6 linked regions of the Homo sapiens genome follow. The protein of the gene in region 1 interacts with the protein of each later gene in a pairwise test. Each region holds a gene or a part of one and is shown on either strand. Other genes may lie near its edges.

Region 1 (3,534 bases):
CCAGAAACAGGAGATGACATTGCTCAAAGATGACTATGTAAGACTAAACACACTTTTCATCCCCTGTGCTTCCTAAAAGAGTACAGCAGCAACAAAAAGCAACTCCATCAGCATTCTTTCCATCCAGCGCAAGATGAAACTTGCCCTGAATGAACAGGTAAGAACCTATTTTCTAACACCAAACAATCTCTATATTATTATGAGAGGTATTACAATTTTTGTTTCACTCACTGATAACCTATTTCTTGTAGCTTACAGGAAAAAGCAGAGGGCTTTCCTTTTTTCTGAGACTGCAAAGAAGGGCTCTGAGATACCCCAGGGAAGAGTCATTGTTACCCACCATAAATGGTTAATGTGCTTTCATTTTCCAACGTAAAAACCAAATCGTTAAGATCAGAAGCTTATAATTCTACTGCCCTATTTCCCTTTGCTAATCCATTAACTTGTATTAGGGCAAAAATGTTCTGAATCATTTATCAAAAGCTGCTGTATGTAAACACAGAGATTTTTAAAAAGCCATGTTGTAAATGTCCTGTGTTACTTTGTAAATAAGCAGAAAATAATATGTCAAACTTCTCAACAACCTACCCTGCCCTATAGCTCTTACAATGGCAACTTTTTAAAAAATGTGTGTGTATGTGTGTGTATTTCTTCCCTATCTGTCTAGCACAGCTCATTAAAAAAAACAAATTGAGAAAGTGGGCAACTGAATATTTCTAATGAAAACATGATGGTAACTATAATGTCCTACAAAAATACTGGCCTGTTCATTTTACTTTGATTAACTATTACCTCGGTATTTAAAAACCATTGATACAGGTTCCCGTGTATTCCAGGTCTGGTGCTTGGGTCCAGCAGTGATGCACTCTCCTATGTATACTCTAGCTACACCCTGACAAAATCAGCACTGAAGAAGAAGAAGCATCCCACCCATTTGACAGATGAGTAACTGAGGCCAAGAGGCACAGAACTTATAAAGGTGACTCTGCTGATATGCAAAATAAAGGACCAAAGAAATCAATAAAACTCATCCCCAAAATTATAGTTTAAATATCCCTTAAATATTAAAGTAGTATTTGATTAGTATGATAAAAAATATTTACTATCATTTAACTGGTAGTAACCATAATCTTTATGTTAGTTTTTCGTTTAGTCCATTGATTTTTCTTTATGTTTATTCACTGCGATTTTTTTTACAAAGGTTCACCCTAAAGTTCACCAATGTCTGTCTCTTTACGTGAAAGTAGAACCTTGCCAAAGAATCATGGACTCAAAGGATGATCATGAATTTAGATCAGTGACTTAAAGCACAGACATAGATGTATACAACTGATAAAGAATAATAGGGCACTCAGAGAGGAGTAAAAAACAACAACCAATTCTCTACCACTCATCTGAAATATCTCCCAAGGATCATGCATGTCATCAAAGGTAGGAATTTTGTTTCTGAAGGAGGAGAGACAACCCAATGCAACTCTCTCTCCTCTTTCATTAAATCTAGTGCAGTGTGGCCGACTGAGTCTCCCATACCCCAGTGGAATCTACTTAACCCCAGTGGAACCTAGCTAACTCCCTTACCCAGTGGAATCTAGTTAACATTAACTCCCATACCCCAGTGGAATCTAATTAAACCCAGTGGAACCTAGTTAACTCCCATACCCCAGTGGAATCTAGTTAACATTAACTCCCATACCCCAGTGGAATCTAATTAAACCCAGTGGAACCTAGTTAACTCCCATACCCCAGTGGAATCTAGTTAACATTAACTCCCATACCCCAGTGGAATCTAATTAAACCCAGTGGAACCTAGTTAACTCCCATACCCCAGTGGAATCTAATTAAACCCAGTGGAACCTAGTTAACTCCCATACCCCAGTGGAATCTAGTTAACATTAACGCCCATACCCCAGTGGAATCTCGTTAACTCCCACACCCCAGTGGAATCTAGTTAACACTAAACGCACCCCCCAAACCGAGAGCTAGGACAGCACAGCTGAAGACAGACACTGAGATCCTCCCTTAGCCACTCACCTCCAGTCAAATGCCAGGTTGTTTTTCAAGATGGCTCATCTCTTAGCTTCACGAATTTTGGGAATAATAATATATTGAGTGATTTACCGGTGATACCAGGAAGAAATCAAATGCTCAGAGTGCTCAAAAACACAGACTACGTTAAAAACTCTCCCTTCAAGTTGCTGAAAGTATGAATGAAAACTATGAAAAAAGATGCTTTATAGAATTTGTTAATTCTTAAGTGTTTTTTAAAATAGATAAAATATACCTTCAAAGTTCAAACAAGTGAAAGAAGCCTCCAAAATCTCAGGCTCAGGGCTCTCTTAAGGAAATACATATGAAAAAATATCCTTGAACTATACTGTGTTCAACAAATAGTCATTTCAAATAAATATATTTGTCTCTTGAACCTAATTTTGTATCAAATACACAAGCAAAATTTTCAGTGAAGCCTAAAGAAGATGTGTGGGTTCAGTTGATATAGCAGGCTAAAGATCCTAATGGTCAAAGCTTGAAATATGAGGATATTCTTCTACTGTGTTCCTATGTGGGTTTGAAGTAACCTTAGACATAAGTTGGCACTTCCATTCAACTACCTAGCTTCATATGCCAATAAAACTTGTGAGTGAATAAATAAACATGGCATATCCATACAATAAAATAGGAATGAAGTACTGAGACTTGCCGCAGCATGGATGAAGCTTGAAAACATGCTAAGTGAAAGAAACCAATCATAAAAGACCACATATTATATGATCCCTTGTATATGAAATATCCAGAACAGACATATCTACAGAGACTGAAAGTGGGTTAATCAGTGGGTGGCTAGGGGTGGGGGTGGTGGAGAATGAGGAGTAACTACTCAAAACTTTAGGGTTGATAAACATTTTCTAAAATTGTGGTGATAGTTGCACAACTGTGAATTTACTAAAAACCATTGACCAGTACACTTTAAATGCTAAATGGGTAAGTTGTATGGCATGTGAATATATGTCAAAGCTGTGTTCTTTTTTAATTCTGCAGTTCTCAACTCATAATCTTCCAACTTTTTTTTTTATAGAAACCTTAGTTTAGCTGTCTTTGAATTAGTTACAATGTCCTATCAAGCCCATTTCTTTTATAAGTACATACTAAAATACTAATGGCTGAAGTTGTGATACCTGGAATTTGCCTTAAAATAATCCAGGGGTGTTAGGAAGGGGGAGCAGCGTTAGGTATAAAGTGGCCATGTGTTGATAGCTACTGGGTGAAGGGTAAAATGCGGGATCATTACACCCTTCTTTCTACATTTGTTGAGTTTTTAAATTTTTATAATAAAAGATTTAAAATTGAAGGGAATGGTTCTTCGGACTGCCCACTCAATCCTATGCTGGTTATATTTTCTTGTGATAAAAATACACACATTGGAATATATACAGATGAAATGTGACACCTGAGATTTGCTTCCAAACAATAAGAGAATTTAATCTCACAAATGGACTAGGGAGCACGAAGGATCTAATTCCCACCCTGCTTGGAATA
Region 2 (3,534 bases), on another chromosome or scaffold:
CTCATCAGAATTCTTCTTTGATTCATATCTCTGTATAGCATTGTAGGAGATAGCAAAGCCTCAGGTTCAAAAAGCTGGAGGCGTCAGGCTGCTTGGATTCAAATCCTGGCTCCACCAATTATTAACTTTCCTATGCCTCATTTTATACCCATGGCAAATGAGAGTAGTAACAATACCTATCTGTTGGATCCTTGTGAGGAGAAAGGATTAAAGGAGAAAGCACATCAAAACATTTTAGCCCAATCTGACACTAATTAAATATTAGTTTTATTGTATTCATTTTATTAAATAACCTTGTTCCTTTTTTACTGCCTCCAACTCTGCTGCCTGTGTCCTGTCTCTTTAACTGCACTTTTGACCTCCCTGCCTTTCCTCAGGTGTAGCTTCCCTGAGGCGTGCCACTGCTCTGTTTTGTGTCCGAATGCTTTTCATCGTTCCAGTGGCATCTCATTTCTCCCTCTTTTGAATCCTCAGCAGATATTTAAGCTATTACAATTTTTTATGCTACTTTCATACTTTTGAACGCAGGGTAGGTCTTGCCCATCTTTATAGTACATCTGTATAAGGTGTATAATGTACTGAATTGAATATTAATAGGATAGATTAAATTCTTTCTTATGTTTGGGTATTTCCTTCCTTTAAAAGGCAACAAAATCCACTGTGATAGAAAATGAACAGTGCTCAACCGCCATGTTTTGTTTATTTATTTATTTAAGATAGGGTCTTGCTCTGTTGCCCAGGCTGGATGCAGTGGTGCATTCATAGCCCACTGCAGATTCAACCTCCTGGGCTTAAGTGATCCTCCCACCTCAGCCTCCTGAGTAGCTGGGGCTACAGATGTGTGCCACCATGTCAAGCTAATTTAAAAAAAAATTTTTTTTTTTAGAGACAGGGTCTCACCATGTTGCCCAGGCTGGTCTTGAACTCATGGGTTCAAGTGATCCTCCCATCTCAGCCTCCCAAAGTGGTGGGATTATAGACATGAGCTACCATGCCTGGCCTCTCCATGTATTACTATTTTCTAGCTATCAGTTTTAATTTTCTAAAGACTTCATTTCATTATTAGACACAGTTACTTCAACATTAGGAAAGTGTCTTGCAGTTTTTAAAAAAATCAGACATAAAATCCGGGTTAGCAAGAGAATTATAGACTTGCTTGTATAAAATACATTAAGTTTCTTAACCAGAACTTATACTTTAAGCAAAGCCCTTGTATACGTCCCATTGTTCAGCTGGAAGAGTATCTGTTCTTTTATCTTAGATATCTGTGTGTTTTTATTTAGGAGAGGTTGTAAGGAGTGAACACTCCTTGCTTTTACAGGTTACATCCTGTTATAAGGAACTCTGCAGGGTATCTACATTGTAGAGTAATTTTATTTTAGTGACTACATTGTTAAAAGTCACATTCCCAAGCGTTAGGAGTTACAGGAATTGGAAGCAGAACAGATCCAGGCTGGGTGTGGTGGCTCACGCCTGTAATCCCAGCACTTTGGGAGGCCGAAGTGGGAGGGTAACTTGAGCCCAGGTGTTTGAGATCAGCCTGGGCAATTTAGTGAGACCTTGTTTCCACAAAAAAAATTCAAAAATTAGCTAATCGTGGTAGCTCACGCCTGTATTCGCGGCTACTCGAGAGGCAGAGGTGGAAGGATCACTTGAGCCTGGGAGGCGGAGGTTGCAGTGAGCCAGGTTCATGCCACCTCACTCCAGCCTGGGCAAACAGAGCAAGTCCATGTCACAGAACAAACAAACAAAACAGATCCATTTGTCTCTCTTTTTGGGTAATGAATTAAGAGTTCTGAACATAATAGAGTGCGTGGTTTCCCGTGCTTCTTTGCCTTAAAACCTATGTCCTTCAGTCCCTTCTGCATTTAATATAATGTGCATTCTTTGCATGCTTACCAAGTAGAAATTTTTTGCTTAGGATGGAGCGATAGTGAGTTTAAAACTATCTATAGAGTTATAGAAAGCTTAGCATTCTTTCCCACAAGGGGAATTTATTAGAAAGCTAAATGTCTTTGGTAAAACACCAAAATCTTACATACAGATGCTTCTCACTCTTACACAGAGAGTTCCACTGAGAAGGCAGAAGAATAAGGTGCCCATAGTCATTTAGGAGTCATTTCAAATGGTGCTCTATAGTCTTCAGTGCCACCATGCTGGGAGGGCTGACCCTCTTTTCAGTCAGGTCTTTTCCCTTACCTGTTTTCTGCTTGGGTTCCAAATAGGATTTTTGTCTAGAGGGTGAAAAAGAAGGCATCCTACTTAAGGCCTGAAAAGCACACTTCAGAGAATTTTATTTGACTCAATGAATGATGCTTTTCTGACTGAGCACCTTCTTGGTGCCAAAAGCACTATATTAGCCACTAGGGACACAAAAAATTAAAACATTCAGATCCTGGAGAACTTTTCAGTCTGGTAATAGAAATATTTATAAACAGATAAAATGGTACCTCATAAGGCTTATTACAGAGACATAAGCACAGAACTTGGAGAATGTGGAGAGTGAGCTTAGCAGAAGCTTCACTGGGTAAGATACTTGTGTTGTTAGCGTCAGTCAGGCATTTATAGGGAGTAATGTAGTCCTTTAGAACCCTTTGCTATTTTTACTTATAGGGAAAACTTCAATTTAGCAGTGGGAATGATTCTTATTTTAGTATGGTATTACATAAAATCTTATCTTTATCCTAATTTTTGATCATTTACAAATTTGATTTCTGAAACTTTTAGTGTTCATGAAGATTTTCTGTGGTTTTGTTTTTAAAAGATTTTTTTGTCCTCTAATCCCATGTGCATCTATCTTTACACAGTTTATGAAGTATTAACTGCTGCTGTTTCCCATTAAAATCAACTTTTGAACAGAAACTAAATATAGTTGCTTTCTCTCCTAAAATAGAACTTTTCAGAAAGCTCTGGGAAAGTTTCAAAAATTAAAAAAAAAAAAAAAAAAAAAAAAGACTGCTTATGTAAATTGTTTTCTTGCAGTTGTTAACTTGCTTATTGAATACTAAAAATTCTGTCTCCACTCAGGTATACCATACTTTTCACGATGAGGTGGATGAGTATCGGCGACACTGGTGGCGCTGCAATGGGCCGTGCCAGCACAGGCCACCGTATTACGGCTATGTCAAACGAGCTACTAACAGGGAACCCTCTGCTCATGACTATTGGTGGGCTGAGCACCAGAAAACCTGTGGAGGCACTTACATAAAAATCAAGGAACCAGAGAATTACTCAAAAAAAGGCAAAGGAAAGGCAAAACTAGGAAAGGAACCAGTATTGGCCGCAGAGAATAAAGGTACCTTCGTGTATATTCTTCTGATTTTTATGTGACCATAGCTATGATGTAAAGACAATACTGTCCTTCAGAGAACTGGTATTAAGATAAACTTAAGGATCGTTTCTGGTGTAGAAGTCTTCAAGTGTAGACTTAAGGAAAAAATCCCACTGTCCATGAAATGATGGTAGGAAAACAGACTTTGCTCTGTACAGAAGTAAGTAAAAGTAGGAATAGTTTCCATGGATATTTTTATTTTT
Region 3 (3,500 bases), on another chromosome or scaffold:
CTATAATTTCTTATTCTTCTTAAAAATAAAAAGATGTTGAAAGATGTAATTTTGCCTTTGCAAAAATTACAACCAAGGAAATTATGTAAAAGAGATCTGACCTAACCAACTCCATCTTGCTTCTAACCTCTAAGCTGTCCTTGTTCATTCCTGGGTGTAGGCCGAACTAATCTTGGGAAAGAACTTAGTTTATTAAAGTTTAACTTTGAAACAAACATGATAATAACCCTTTCCCAAAATAAACCCCCTTCTTGCCTGGGGAACCAGTCAGCCTTTGTAGGACTAACAAATTAGCTCCAAGATTAGAAATTACGGTTTAGGAGCCACACAGCCTCCAGCTGCATGAATCTGAACCTCCTCAAATTGCTCCCAGGTATAACATCACAGTTGTAACACCTAAAATCAGTGCTCCAGATATTTTGCAGACCTTCCAATGCACCAGCTGATGCCACCTAGATAGGTAATCCGGCCCAGCCAGTTCTGTGCTCCCACACAGGAACAGAAGCAAGCAAGAAAAACTCAATTTTGACCCCCTATGATTTCATCTCCAACCCAAGCCCCTACCTACCAAATTATCCTTAAAAATTCAGATCTCCGAGTTTTCAGAGAGACTGATTTGAGTAATCATAAAACTCCAGTGTCCCGTACAGCCGACTCTACATTAATTACTGTCTCTCTACTGCAATTCCTATCTTGATAAATCAGCTCTGTCTGGGTAGTGGGCAAGGAGAACCCACTGGGCAGTTACAATATCATGTATCTGGTTAGGCTTACATTTTAAATGCATTATTTCCTTAGTATGCTACACTGCTACCTCCCAAACTGTCTTAGGCAACATTTGTTCTATGAAATGTGAATAGGTATGTCCTGAAAAAAGGATTTACCTGTCAAATGAGTTTATGAAAAGCTGTACACTATACTTCTGTATGGAGGTTCACAATGAACATACTGAGTGAAGCCTCTGAGAATCCTACAGCAAAGAAATCTACTTAACTTCAGTTACTCACAATTTCCTAGGATGATCTGACCTTGAACTTTTTTTTCAGAGTTTCCTATTAACATTCTGCAAAGATCCCTGCCCGGTTACTGACTTCGGTACCACTGTAGAACACAGTCCACAAATGAATGGTGTAACAGATGAGTTTACTATAATGTGTTTCCTATCATAATGCAATGTGTAAAGCTGAACGTATTAAACTACAGTAATAAAGATGTTTCTGTATTTTATTTGGAAAATGATGGGGAAAAGATTCTGCTATCTTTTTTCTTTTTATATTAATAGTTCTCTTTTTATCTATATTCACAATTGTCTAACAAAATACCTCAAAAATAATCTTTGTTAGCATGATTCTTTTTCATTAGGCCAAAAGAATTTTCCTTTTCTACTGATAAGGAAAAATTCGCTGGATCCTTTTCATGTACCTAGCACTATTTCAGGTACTCTGATGAGTATAAGGGGCAACTGTAAATGTAATCAAGTTACTGATTCCTACACAGCTCCCAACAATTAAAGGTTTGCCACAGATCCTTAGGTAACCCCAAAATGTTCTGTCCCTCACTTTTGTCTTGGGCCAGCTATGTAGCTGCTATGACCTGGCCAAACCACACATAAAAGCAGCTTAGCCCAGTATGTCAAAGGGGTTTGAATTCCTAATCCCAAAAGCCATAATCCCAAATGTTGAAATCCCAAAAGATCAAAATTCCTAGATTAAAATCCCTAACATCAAAAATCCTAAAAATCCCAATCAGAGGAATCACAGAAGAATTCCAAAAAGAGCAATCTCATGAAGAAAATGAATATGAACATATTCTCCAAGAACCATGTCCTAAAAGAAAAAAAGCACCTATTATTCGTGGTACAAGACTTCAAAATATAGTTAATGACTGAGAAAGACAGCCAGCTCTATGGACTATCTCCATGCAACTGCCTATAATCTGTCCCTGTGATACACTTTTTTTTATGTCAAACTTCCTTTTTAGTTTTGGGTGTTTTTTTTTTCTTTGTTTTTATTTTCACTATCTTAAATTGTTAGCATTTTTTAATTATGTAGAAATTTTTGGAGAGTTCTAATTTACTGTATTCATTTTTTGCAAATTTAACTCCATGAAAATGCATTACCACAACATTTACTTTCTGGGTAAACATTGTGTATGTATATAAAAACACTGAAACTTAATCAATGAACAGATGTCCTTTATCATACATCTGCACTTGTAAAAGATAAAATTTCTCAAGATTTCAGTTCTCTGGGCAACTACAAATGCAGTGGTGACTCACTATGGTTTTTGACTGATCTCATCAAAAGACAGCTTGTTCATCATCACAGTATTTCAGATGACTGCAGTAACAAAGCTGGGTGCACAATTACCAACCACAATAATATGTGTTTATGCATTTCACCTTTCGCCCTATTCTTTATGAATACGGTTTGTCTGCTCCTGTTATACCCATGCAACTATTGTTAGTATATGTGTTTATAGTTTCAATAAACATATATGTTTATTGCCTATATATATGTTATTGCCTATTTTATTGTGAAAAGTGGCCTATGAAGAGTTCTGTCATGTTTTTATACGTTTCTCAAATCCCCTTTTTAAAATGTAAATAAATATCTTTTTTTATTATTTTTACAGAATCCTAGTTTTGGGACTTTCATCTTTTAAGATTTCAACATTTGGGATTATGGTGTTCAAGACAGTGTCTTTCAGGATTATGACAGACTTCCGTTCAAAAAACAGGATTTAAGAGGGGATGGTGGGGGAAGAGACTGAAACAAAAAACTGACACACCATTTTACATGATCTTGAAAGACATCAAATAATTTAGACTTCACCTTTTATGAAAGGAAAGTTATAAAAGGCTTCTAGTTTAGAGAGATATCTCTAAGAAACCAGGAAAACCAGTCTGGGAGCTAATGGAATTATTATGCAAAAGGTGGAAAAGGACTTCACTAAGGCACTGGCAAGAAAAAGAAAGGAATGTACAGTATTTGGAGAAGGAATCAACAGGATCTGGTGACTGACAATATTTCAGGGATAAGAAAGGAAAATCAATTACAATTAGAATTTTCGGGGTATGTGTATTGTAGATGCCATGCAGGCAGAAAGAAAAGTTCTGGTTTAAGTCTGAGAGATTAGGGGATGGTGAGGGGTGCGGGGACGAGAGATCAAGATAGTGAATTCTGTTTTGTTAGGACACTATGAAACTGACACTCTTATAACACATTTGAATAAAGAAAATAAATATCATACACTCAAAAAATAAAAAAAGAAAGAACATCTACAAATAGGAACCTGGGACCCAGTGTGAACAAGTCTCAGTCTCTGTTGCTCAGCATCACCTCTGAGACAGCTTTACAACACTCCACAAACCATCTTGAAACAATGAAAGATCCTATAGGTGTAAAGGAAAACACCTACATTTGATGACTGAGAGTGAGCACCACTGAACTTTCTTCCAGCGACTGCATGTGAGCCAGTGATTGACTCTTTTAACCAAC
Region 4 (3,534 bases), on another chromosome or scaffold:
ACAGAAAGATGACCTCAACTCCCAGCTCCAGGTAACACCTTTGGCTCTGGCCTGTCTCTTCCTAGTTCCCTAGTAATGGCCCAGTGAAGTCCCCAGTAAGGTGGAGTGGGAAGACTGGAGTCAGGAGGACCTAGGTTCCAGTCTGGCTCCCTAACTTATTAGCACCTGTGTGTTCTGGGACAAGTCATTTCACTTCTCTGAAACTGAGCCTCTTCAGTTAGTTAGGATATCAATTCTTTTTCATTTTTTAAATTTTAATTTAATTTAATTTTTTTTTGAGATGGAGTCTTGCTCTGTCACCTAGTCTGGAGTGCAGTGGCGTGATCTCGGCTCACTGCAAGCTCCGCCTCCCGTGTTCTCGCCATTCTCCTGCCTCAGCCTCCCGAGTAGCTGGGACTATAGGCGCCTGCCACCATGCCCAGCTAATTTTTTGTATTTTTAGTAGAGACGGGGTTTCACCGTGTTAACCAGGATGGTTTCGATCTCCTGACCTCGTGATCTGCCCGCCTCGGCCTCCCGAAGTGCTGGTATTACAGGCGTGAGCCACCACGCCCGGCTCCTTTTTTTTTTTTTTTTTTTTTTTTGAGATGGAGTCTCACTCTGTTGCCCAGGCTGGAGTGCAGTAGCGCGATCTCAGCTCACTGCAACCTCCGCCTCCTGGGTTCAAGCGATTCTCCTGCCTCAGCCTCCGGAGTAGCTGGGATTACAGGCGCCTGGCACCACGCCCAGCTAATTTTGTATTTTTAGTAGAGACGGGGTTTTACCATGTTGGTCAGGCTTCTCAAACTCCTGACCTCAGGAGATCTACCCGGCTCAGCCTCCCAAGCAATATCCATTCTGATTCCATAATAGAAACCAGAATAATAGTAGATTAAATAAGATACAAATTTAGTTCCCTCTCATTAAAAGTCCAGGTAGGTTATTCAGGGATGGAATGATGGCTTTCCAGTCATCTGTGACCCAGGTTCTTTCTCCATTGCTGTTCCTCCACCTTCAACACAAGACTTTTATCTTGGCATCCAAGACGGTTGCTGAAACTCCCCGACCATCATGTTTGTATTCTATCTGGAAGGAAGGAGGAAAGGGGCAGGGAAGAGTGTGCCCCTTTCCTTTAAGAGCATAACCTAAATTACACTCACCACTTCCACATACAGAAATAAATCACATGGCCACACCTAACCATAAGGGAGGAGGGGAAACATCTGCTAGACAGCTGTATGCCCGATGATAAATTTTATTGCTAGGGAAGTAAGGAAGAATGAATACTGGGGAGCAACTAGCAGTCTCTGCTATATTTCCTATCCAGAAATTGAGATCACAATACCAACTTTACCAGGGAGAAGGGAGATGGTCTACCAGATGGTCCTGGGTGACTAGCACCTACTGGATGCTCTTTATCAAACTCTTTCCCTTTGGTGTCTGCATTAGGAGTCATTACGGGCCAATAGTCGACTGCTGGAACAACTTCAAGAAATAGGGCAGGAGAAGGAGCAGTTGACCCAGGAATTACAGGAGGCTCGGAAGGTAGGGGAACATGAGGGTTGAAGGGAGAGGATGGGGGGTAGGAATTGGCTCAGTCCATGGGGATGGGAGGAGGTGATATAACCAAACATGTGGGGATAGGAGGGAAAGGAAAATTGACTGGTTTCTGGTTGACCAGTTTCTTGGCCAAATCCATGAGAGTGGGAGGGGAAAGAAAGAAAGTGACCAGTTCTATAAGGATGGGTGAGTGCCTTAGCCAGTTCAGTGGGGATGGGAGGGAGTGGAGTTTGGCTAGTTCCTTGGGCATGGGAAGAGGGTTGGAGGCCTTTTTTCGATGTTGTGGAAGGAAGTTGACTGCCATCGTCCTGGCCCCCAGAGTGCGGAGAAGCGGAAGGCCATGCTGGATGAGCTAGCAATGGAAACGCTGCAAGAGAAGTCCCAGCACAAGGAAGAGCTGGGAGCAGTTCGTCTACGGCATGAGAAGGAGGTGCTGGGGGTGCGTGCCCGCTATGAGCGTGAGCTCCGAGAGCTGCATGAAGACAAGAAGCGTCAGGAGGAGGAGCTCCGTGGGCAGATCCGGGAGGAGAAGGTGGGTGGGTAGATGATGATGCCCTTCTTCCTCTAAAACCTGGGAACCACAGCGTTGCTGATAGGCCAGTGGGTGGCATGCATCAGGTGCCCGCTCCTCTGCCTTCCTGGCCCATGACAGTCTGCCCCATCCCAGGCCCGGACACGGGAGCTGGAGACTCTCCAGCAGACAGTGGAAGAACTTCAAGCTCAGGTACATTCCATGGATGGAGCCAAGGGCTGGTTTGAACGGCGCTTGAAGGAAGCCGAGGTGAGTTGGTGATGCCTGGTGAGGAACAGAGGCTGATTGGGGCCCTCATGTCAAACCACAGAAGCAGGAGTGGTCAGGCCCTGGAACTTCCCGAGATTTTCTGGACTTAGGGATATCCCCACAGTCCCCTGGCTCAATAGCAGCCCTCTGGAGTGGATCAGGGGATGGCCATCAGATAGGACAGACTGTCACGTGTTAAGGCTGCCCTGCCTTTGTGCAAATTTGGAAAGGCACCTCTTTCTCCTGAAACTGTACTTCTGTCAGGAAATTAATGCAATACACTGATGTTATTGAACAAGAACCTGCTGGGTGCGGTGGCTCACGCCTGTAATCTCAGCACTTTGGAAGGCCGAGGTGGGCGGATCACTTGAGGTCAGGAGTTCAAGACCAGCCTGGCCAACATGGTGAAACCCTGTCTCTACTAAAAATACAAAAATTAGCCGGGCATGGTGGCTGGCGCCTGTAATTCCAGCTACTCAGGAGGCTGAGGCAGAAGAATCACTTGAACCCAGGAGGCAGAGGTCGCAGTGAGCTGATATCGTGTACTGTACTCCAGCCTGGGTGACGGAGTGAGACTCTGTCTCGGAAAAAGAACCTTTGTTGCCATTTTCTGGAAATCTCATAATACACTGAAAGGCATTGTCATGTAGCAGTGAAGAGCACAGGCTGGAGCCAGTTGTTTGTCTAGGTTTGAATCCTGGCTGGGCCATTTCCTAGCTGTGTGACCTTGGGCAAGTTATCTGACCTCTCTGTGGCCTGTTTTCATCAATGGTAAAAAGGGGGTAACAATAATATCTACCATCTAGGTATTACGGGAGGATTATAGAAAATGAGTTAATATATGTAAAACCCTTAGAACATTCTTGGCATGTAGTAAGCGCTATGTTTTGTTAAATAAAATAAAATGTAAATGCAAATCTAAGTCAACCATGCGAATGGTGCAACTTTAGATGTGACACTTCAGCATATTGCCTAAGGGCGTGTGGGGTTCCCTGCAGGAGGGTCATTTCTGCATACCTCTGGGCCCCCATTGCAGTCCCTCATACCCCTAACTGGGCATGATACCTTCTGGGGGGCTGTGGCCAGACCTGGGACTTGTCTTGTAGGAATCCCTGCAGCAGCAGCAGCAGGAACAAGAGGAAGCCCTCAAGCAGTGTCGGGAGCAGCACGCTGCCGAGCTGAAGGTGCCTCTCGCATGATGGTGTTCCTCTCTC
Region 5 (3,534 bases), on another chromosome or scaffold:
CCACTGCACTCCAGCCTGGGCGACAGAGTGAGACTCTATCTCACAAAAAAAAAAAAAAAAAAAAAAAAAAAAAAAAAAAAAAGGTGTTACATCTGGTAGCCACTATTTGCCTTCAAACAAGTCCGTTAACCCTACTTTACCCAGGCGGGTTTTTTTTGTTTTGTTTTTGGTTTGTTTTTTTTTTGAGACCGAGTCTCACTCTGTCACCCAGGCTGGGGTACAGTGGTGCGATCTCAGCTCACTGCAACCTCCGCCTCCTGGGTTCAAGCGATTCTTCTGTCTCTGCCTCCCGAGTAGCTGGGATCACAGGCACATACCACCACGTCTGGCTAATTTTTGTATTTTTTTAGTAGAGACGGGGTTTCACCATGTTGGCCAGGCTGGTTTTGAACTCCTGACCTCAGGTGATCCGCCTGCCTCGACCTCCCAAAGTGCTTCGATTATAGGCATGAGCCACTGCACCCGGCCACCCAGGTGTTTTTATCTAGGCACTAGGTTGTGTGCTGCTTGAGGGCTGGCATGAGATTGTAACTTATTTGTGTTTGGATTCCCTTTGTCTAGACAGAGATGCTCAATATTTGTTGAAGCAATGAAGAATGGATCTGTAAAATGGGGACAGAGAACCAGATCTCTCAAGACCTTTCTAGACCTCATCTTCTATGTAGACAGATGAATCTGGGAACTAGTGTTGAATTTGAAGACACACACAGACCTGCTTCACAGCCCTTTTCTAGTCTTTAGTCATTTTATTATACTTTTTGCCATCTGTCTTGTATTGCCATTTGAAACCATTCTAGTGAATGAAATATAAATTATGTTCTTATTTGTTTCTAGGAAGCAAGATTTCCAGATGTAGCAAATGGGTTTATTGAGGAAATAATTCATTTTAAGAATTATTATGATCTGAATGTGTAAGTATACTACCATGCTTTTTTTGTGGTGGTGGTGGTGGTGGTAAAATATATGTAATAAAAAATTTACCATTTTAATCATTTTTAAATATACAATTTGGTGTTGTTAAGTAAATTCACATTATTATGCAACTATCACCACCATCCATCTTCAGAACTCTTTCATCTTCTCAAACTGAAACTCTGTCCGCATTAAACACTCACTCCCCATCCCCTTCCCAAGCCAGTGGCACCCACCATCCTACTTTCTTTCTATATGGATTTGGCTACTATCAGGGACCTCATGTGTTTGTTCTTTTCTGACTGGCTTATTTCACTTGGCATTATGTCTTTTTTAATGACCTTGTTCGTTCTGACATTAGTGATACACAGACTGTTTTCTGGATTTTATGGAATACTGCATGGTTATAGAATTATGATAACTGAGTTGTTTCTAAGCGTTGATACTACCTGTGTTTTAGTCAAGATGTTAAGACATTTTCTTCCCTACGATTGTAACAAAATGTTCTGCAACCACTCTGTTTGGAGAAATACATGGAAGCATTTTTTTTTTTTTTTTTTTTTTTTTGAGACGGAGTCTCACTCTGTCTCCCAGACTGGAGTCCAGTGGTGCGATCTCGGCTCACTGCAAGCTCCGCCTCCCAGGTTCAGGCCATTCTCCTGCCTCAGCCTCCCGAGTAGCTGGGACTACAGGCGCCTGCCAGCACGCCTGGCTAATTTTGTGTATTTTTAGTAGAGATGGGGTTTCACCATGTTAGCCAGGATGGTCTCGATCTCCTGACCTCGTGATCCACCCGCCTCGGCCTCCCAAAGTGCTGGGATTACAGGTGTGAGCCACCGCTCCCAGCCATATTTCTTAATTTTCATTATAAAAGGGATAAATACGGGCCAGACATATGGTTCACACCTTTAATTCTGGCACTTTGGGAGGCTGAGGCAAGAGGATTGCCTGAGTCCAGGAATTCAAGGCTGCAGTGAGCTGTGTTACGCTACTGCACTCCAGCCTGGGAGCCAGAGTGGGACCTTGTCTCTTATTTTAAAAAAATTTTTTATAAGTGGTAAATATGCTTTTTTAAAAAATAAGTTTTCCTGAAGAATATAAAATGAAAAATATACTCTTTCCCCTCCTTCTAATCTGCAGAGGTGAAATAATTGTAATTTTTTTTTTTTTTTTTTTTTTTTTTTTTTGGAGACAGTCTTATTCTGTTGCCCAGGCTAGAGTGCAGTGGTGCGATCTTGGCTTAAACAGCAGTCTCCACCTCCCAGGTTCAAGCAGTTCTCCTGCTCAGTCTCCTGAGTAGCTGGCATTACAGGCGTACTCCACCCTGTCCGGCTAATTTTTGTATTTTTAGTAGAGACAGGGTTTCATCATGTTGGTCAGGCTGGTCTTGAAACCCTGACCTCATGATCTGCTCACCTCCACCTCTCAAAGTGCTGGGATTACAGCCATAAGCCACCGTGCTCAGCCTGGTGGTAAATTTAAACAAAATAGTTCACTAAACACCTTTCCCCAAAGTTCCTATCTTATACTGTAGTTCTCAGTCAAGGTTGCAGGTGAGTTTCTTCCCTGCCAAGGCTGAGAAGGAAGGGCCCCTTTCCAGGTGCTTAGCCCAATGTAGGTACTTTTTTCTAATTTGTACAATGACACTGTTGGAGCCATTAGTGGCCTTGTCTGATCCCACCTCTGTACAGAGGCAACCACTGTCATCAGATTTATATTTATTTATTTATTATTATTATTATTATTATTATTTTTAATTGATCATTCTTGGTTGTTTCTCGCAGAGGGGGATTAGGCAGGGTCACAGGACAATAGTGGAGGGAAGGTCAGCAGATAAACAAGTGAACAAAGGTCTCTGGTTTTCCTAGGCAGAGGACCCTGGGGTCTTCCGCAGTGTTTGTGTCCCTGGGTACTTGAGATTAGGGAGTGGTGATGACTCTTAACAAGCATGCTGCCTTCAAGCATGTGTTTAACACAGCACATCTTGCACCGCCCTTATTCCATTTAACCCTGAGTGGACACAGCACATGTTTCAGAGAGCACTGGGTTGGGGGTAAGGTAATAGATCAACAGCATCCCAAGGCGGAAGAATTTTTCTTAGTACAGAACAAAATGGAGTCTCCTATGTCTACTTCTTTCTACACAGACACAGCAACAATCTGATTTCTCTATCTTTTCCCCACATTTCCCCCTTTTCTATTCGACACAGCTGTCATCGTCATCATGGCCCGTTCTCAATAAGCTGTTGGGAACACCTCCCAGACGGGGTGGCGGCCGGGCAGAGGGGCTCCTCACTTCCCAGAAGGGGCAGCCGGGCAGAGGTGCTCCCCACCTCCCGGACGGGGCGGCTGCCGGGCGGAGGGGCTCCTCACTTCCCGGACGGGGCGGCTGCCGGGCGGAGGGGCTCCTCACTTCTCAGATGGGGTGGCTGCGGGGCGGAGGGGCTCCTCACTTCTCAGACGGGGCGGCCGGGCAGAGACGCTGCTCACCTCCCAGATGGGGTCGCAGCCTGGCAGAGGCGCTCCTCACATCCCAGATGGGGCGGCGGGGCAGAGGCGCTCCCCACGTCTCAGATGATGGGTGGCCCGGCAGAGACGCTCCTCACTTCCTAGAAGGGATGGT
Region 6 (3,534 bases), on another chromosome or scaffold:
TATTTCTGTACCTTTTGTTGAAAAGACTTTTTAAAAAAAATAATGTGGGTCTATTCTATTTCATTGATCCGTTGATTCTAATATTAGTGTCACACTGTCTTGATTACTGTGACTTTAGAGTAAATCTTTTTTTTTCTTTTTGAGACAGAGTCTTGCTCTGTTGCCTAGGCTGGAGTGCAGTGGCGTGATCTCAGCTCACTACATCCTCTGCCTCCCAGGTTCAAGCAGTTCTCCTTCCTCAGCCTCCTGAGTAGCTGCGATTACAGGCATGTACCACCATGCCTGGCTAATTTTTGTATTTTTAATAGAGACGGGAGTTTCACCACATTGGCCAGGCTGGTCTCGAACTCTTGACCTCAGATGATACTCCTGCCTCGACCTTCCAAAGTGCTGGGATTACAGGCGTGAGCCATCGTGCCCGTCCTCCGTATATTTATTCTTTGTATGTAGAGACGGGGTTTTGCTATGCTGCCCAGGCTGGTCTTGAACAGCTCACCTCAAGCAGTCCTCCCGTCTCAGCCTCCTGAAGTGCTGGAATTACAGGCCTGAACCGCCACACCCAGCCTATTTAAATTTTTCAATCAACTTACCAGTTTCTACTAACAGCCTGTTAGGAGTTTGATTGGGGTTGCATTGAACTTAATAGAACAATTTGGGGAGAATTGACATCCAAACAGCAACAGAGTCCTTGTATCCATGAAAATAGTATATTTCTCTGTTTGTGTAGGTCACCTTCAATTTTTTTCAGTAATGAAGTTAAAATAAGGTCATTAGAATGGGCCCTAATCCATTATGACTGGTTTCCTTATAAAAAGGAGAAATTTGGACACAGAGACAGACACGCACAGAAGGAAGATGATGTAAAGACACAGAGTACCACGTGAGGCTGGAGGACTGGAGTGATGTATTTACAACCCAAGGAACGTCTAAGGTTATCAGCATACTGTCAGAAGCAAGGAAGAGGCAAGGAAGGATCCCCTACAAGTTTGAAAAGTGTCATGGCCCTGCTGACACATTTATTTTGGACTTTTAGCCAGAACTGTGAGAAAATAAATTGCTGTATTTTCAAGTCACGCAATTTGTGGTACTTTTCTATGGTGGCCCTAAGAAACTAATATTTATCCCTAATTATATTATGGCTTTTGAGACTGTTTTAAGTAAATTTTAAAAAATTTTCAGTATTGTTCATTGATAATTTATAAAAATATAATTGGTGTTTCTGTGTTAACTTTGTTAACACATAATACATAAAGTGAATCTACTCATTTACTTTATGTATTTTTAATTTATGGAAGGAAGGTTGTAAGAAAGCACATATGAGATAGCTTTAAAAAATGAAGTATTTGAAAGTGAATTAGTGTGACGGAGACAGGTGTGTTTTACATTTGGATTTCTCAAAAAAGAATCCTATAGTAGGGAAGAATCAGCCTTAGAATGTCTAAATTTCCTTTCTGTTTGCGACTGTCACTGTAAAAATTGATGCAGGCAAGAATTACAAACGGATGCCAAAATCCCTGCTTGAAAATTTGCCGGAGAACGGAGGACTCATATAGTCTGAAAATATCATCTTACAGATTGCTTATTAATTACAAAGGGTGAAGGATACAGTCGAGAAGCCTGTTACCACAGTAATGAAGTGATCACAGTTAACGTTATCCATGGAACAAACAAACATTGCGGTCCTCCTGATAGGACGAGTATAAGGCATAACCTGAATCTAACTGTGAGAAAACAAAAACCCAAATTGAAATTCTACAAAACGTAGTTGTTAGTACCTCAAAAATGTCAGTGTCATGAAGGCAAAGCCTTAGGAATCATTCTAGTTGAAAGGGAGATTAAAAGAGAATGACAGCTAAATGCAGTGCATGACCCTGGATTAGAACATGGATTAGGACAAAGGTTGTTATTAAAGACATGGGGATAGTTGGTGAAATTTTTATCATTGATATGATGGGTAATATATCAATGTTAATTTTCTTGAACTTGATCATTGTATATCAAATCAAGAGATAAGGACAGCATCTCTTATGAGGTGGACACGTAAGGATTTGGTGAAGGGTTATGATCATGCAACTTTCAAATGGTTCAGAAAATACACACACACACACACGAAAGGCAATGTGGCAGTTTAAAAACTTCATGAATCTAAATGCAGGTTAAACGGGGGTTTATCATACTATTTTTGCAATTTCTGTAGATTTGAAAATTTTCAAAATAAATATTGAGGCAGAAAGTGCAAATTTAGTTTATGTTATTTTATTTTCGAGACAGGGTCTCACTTAGTCGCCCAGGCTGGAATGCCAGGGAGCGATCTTGGCTCACTGTACCCTCCACCGCCCGGGCTCAAGCAATCCTCCCACCTCAACCTCCTGAGTAGCTGGGACCACAGGCACACACCACTACGCCAGGCTAATTTTTTTATTTTTTGTAGAGATAGGGTCTCACTATGTTACCGAGGCTGGTCTTGAACTCCTGAGCTCAAGTGATACTCCTGCCTCATCCTCGCAAAGTGCTGGGATCACAGGTGTGAGCACTTTGCCCCTGATTGCCATTTATAGCCACACTACTTGGTGATGATCCAGCCACACTGATGTACATACTGCTTCACAAATCATATGCTTATTTTCCAGAGCAACTTTGGGCTTTTTATTTTTTAACTATCTCTTTATTTTGTACCCTGTGCCCAGCCCAGGAATGCACATTTAATTGGGAGAAGGAAACTGCCATTTACATGGAGCTGCAGTCTAGTTCAGTGATGGGAGGGCAGTTTTATGAACAGCTCAACTGTTCAAGTTAAGGCTTATTATTTATTTTTATTTTTCATCCAGTATTATACATTCAGGTCTTTAACTAACTTGAATTTTTCCTTCAAAATAAAATAAAAAGCATGGGGACATATTTCCTTAAATGAGTCCTGGCCGCCTAGGAAGACCACTTGCTGCGAAGAAGCAAAATATCGAGTAGAGTAGGAATGTTTAACCGAAGTGGGTTTCAGCAGAAATTTTAGAGTTAACCAGAACTGAAGAGTGTCGAGAGTTGTTTCCAACAGATGGCAAAAATTGTATAGTCACTTTAAGACTATAAAACTGAGATATTCAAATTTCTTATAAAATTAGAGTTGTTTAAGAAATAGCAAACAGGCCAGGTGCGGGGGCTCACACCTGTAATCTCAGTACTTGAGAGTTCAAGGCAGGCAAATCGCTTGAGCCTGAGAGTGTGAGACCAGCCTGGCCAATAGGGCAAAACCGTCTACAAAAAATACAAAAATTAGCCGGGTGTGGTGGTGGGCGCCTGTAGTCTCAGCTACATGGGAGGCTCAGGCAGTAGCATTGCTTGAGCCTGGGAGGTGGACACTGCAGTGAGCTGAGATTGCACCACTGCACTGCAGCCTGAGTGACAAAGTGAGACTCTGTCTCAAAAAAAAAAAAAAATAAATTTAAAAAAAGAAAGAAATAGCAAATGGAAGGCTGGGCACGGTGGCTCACACCTGTAATCCTGGCACTTTGGAAGGCAGGTGGATCACCTGAGGTCAGG

The links.
Region 2: the proteins of ENTREP1 (region 1) and SPRTN interact in a two-hybrid assay, tested with the Homo sapiens proteins (one large-scale study listed by IntAct).
Region 3: the proteins of ENTREP1 (region 1) and MYO6 interact in a two-hybrid assay, tested with the Homo sapiens proteins (one large-scale study listed by IntAct).
Region 4: the proteins of ENTREP1 (region 1) and GRIPAP1 interact in a two-hybrid assay, tested with the Homo sapiens proteins (one large-scale study listed by IntAct).
Region 5: the proteins of ENTREP1 (region 1) and RNF216 interact in a two-hybrid assay, tested with the Homo sapiens proteins (one large-scale study listed by IntAct).
Region 6: the proteins of ENTREP1 (region 1) and RNF168 interact in a two-hybrid assay, tested with the Homo sapiens proteins (one large-scale study listed by IntAct).

Annotation. Positions count from the first base shown.
Region 1 is NC_000009.12:69,328,197-69,331,730, reverse strand, and holds part of ENTREP1 (endosomal transmembrane epsin interactor 1), read right to left. Parts: intron 2,407-3,534; exon of another isoform or gene 2,032-2,406; intron 1-2,031. UniProt on the Homo sapiens protein: Functions as an activator of the E3 ubiquitin protein ligase ITCH in the ubiquitination of the CXCL12-activated CXCR4 receptor. Thereby, triggers CXCR4 endocytosis and desensitization, negatively regulating the CXCL12/CXCR4 signaling pathway.
Region 2 is NC_000001.11:231,348,277-231,351,810, forward strand, and holds part of SPRTN (DNA-dependent metalloprotease SPRTN), read left to right. Parts: intron 1-3,027; coding exon 3,028-3,295; coding exon of another isoform or gene 3,296-3,330; exon of another isoform or gene 3,331-3,534. UniProt on the Homo sapiens protein: DNA-dependent metalloendopeptidase that mediates the proteolytic cleavage of covalent DNA-protein cross-links (DPCs) during DNA synthesis, thereby playing a key role in maintaining genomic integrity.
Region 3 is NC_000006.12:75,881,739-75,885,238, reverse strand, and holds part of MYO6 (unconventional myosin-VI), read right to left. Parts: coding exon 3,421-3,500; intron 1-3,420. UniProt on the Homo sapiens protein: Myosins are actin-based motor molecules with ATPase activity. Unconventional myosins serve in intracellular movements. Myosin 6 is a reverse-direction motor protein that moves towards the minus-end of actin filaments.
Region 4 is NC_000023.11:48,981,765-48,985,298, reverse strand, and holds part of GRIPAP1 (GRIP1-associated protein 1), read left to right. Parts: coding exon 1-31; intron 32-1,428; coding exon 1,429-1,524; intron 1,525-1,858; coding exon 1,859-2,071; intron 2,072-2,206; coding exon 2,207-2,320; intron 2,321-3,426; coding exon 3,427-3,504; intron 3,505-3,534. UniProt on the Homo sapiens protein: Regulates the endosomal recycling back to the neuronal plasma membrane, possibly by connecting early and late recycling endosomal domains and promoting segregation of recycling endosomes from early endosomal membranes.
Region 5 is NC_000007.14:5,736,653-5,740,186, reverse strand, and holds part of RNF216 (E3 ubiquitin-protein ligase RNF216), read left to right. Parts: intron 1-834; coding exon 835-911; intron 912-3,534.
Region 6 is NC_000003.12:196,493,753-196,497,286, reverse strand, and holds part of RNF168 (E3 ubiquitin-protein ligase RNF168), read left to right. Parts: intron 1-815; exon of another isoform or gene 816-1,073; intron 1,074-3,534. UniProt on the Homo sapiens protein: E3 ubiquitin-protein ligase required for accumulation of repair proteins to sites of DNA damage. Acts with UBE2N/UBC13 to amplify the RNF8-dependent histone ubiquitination.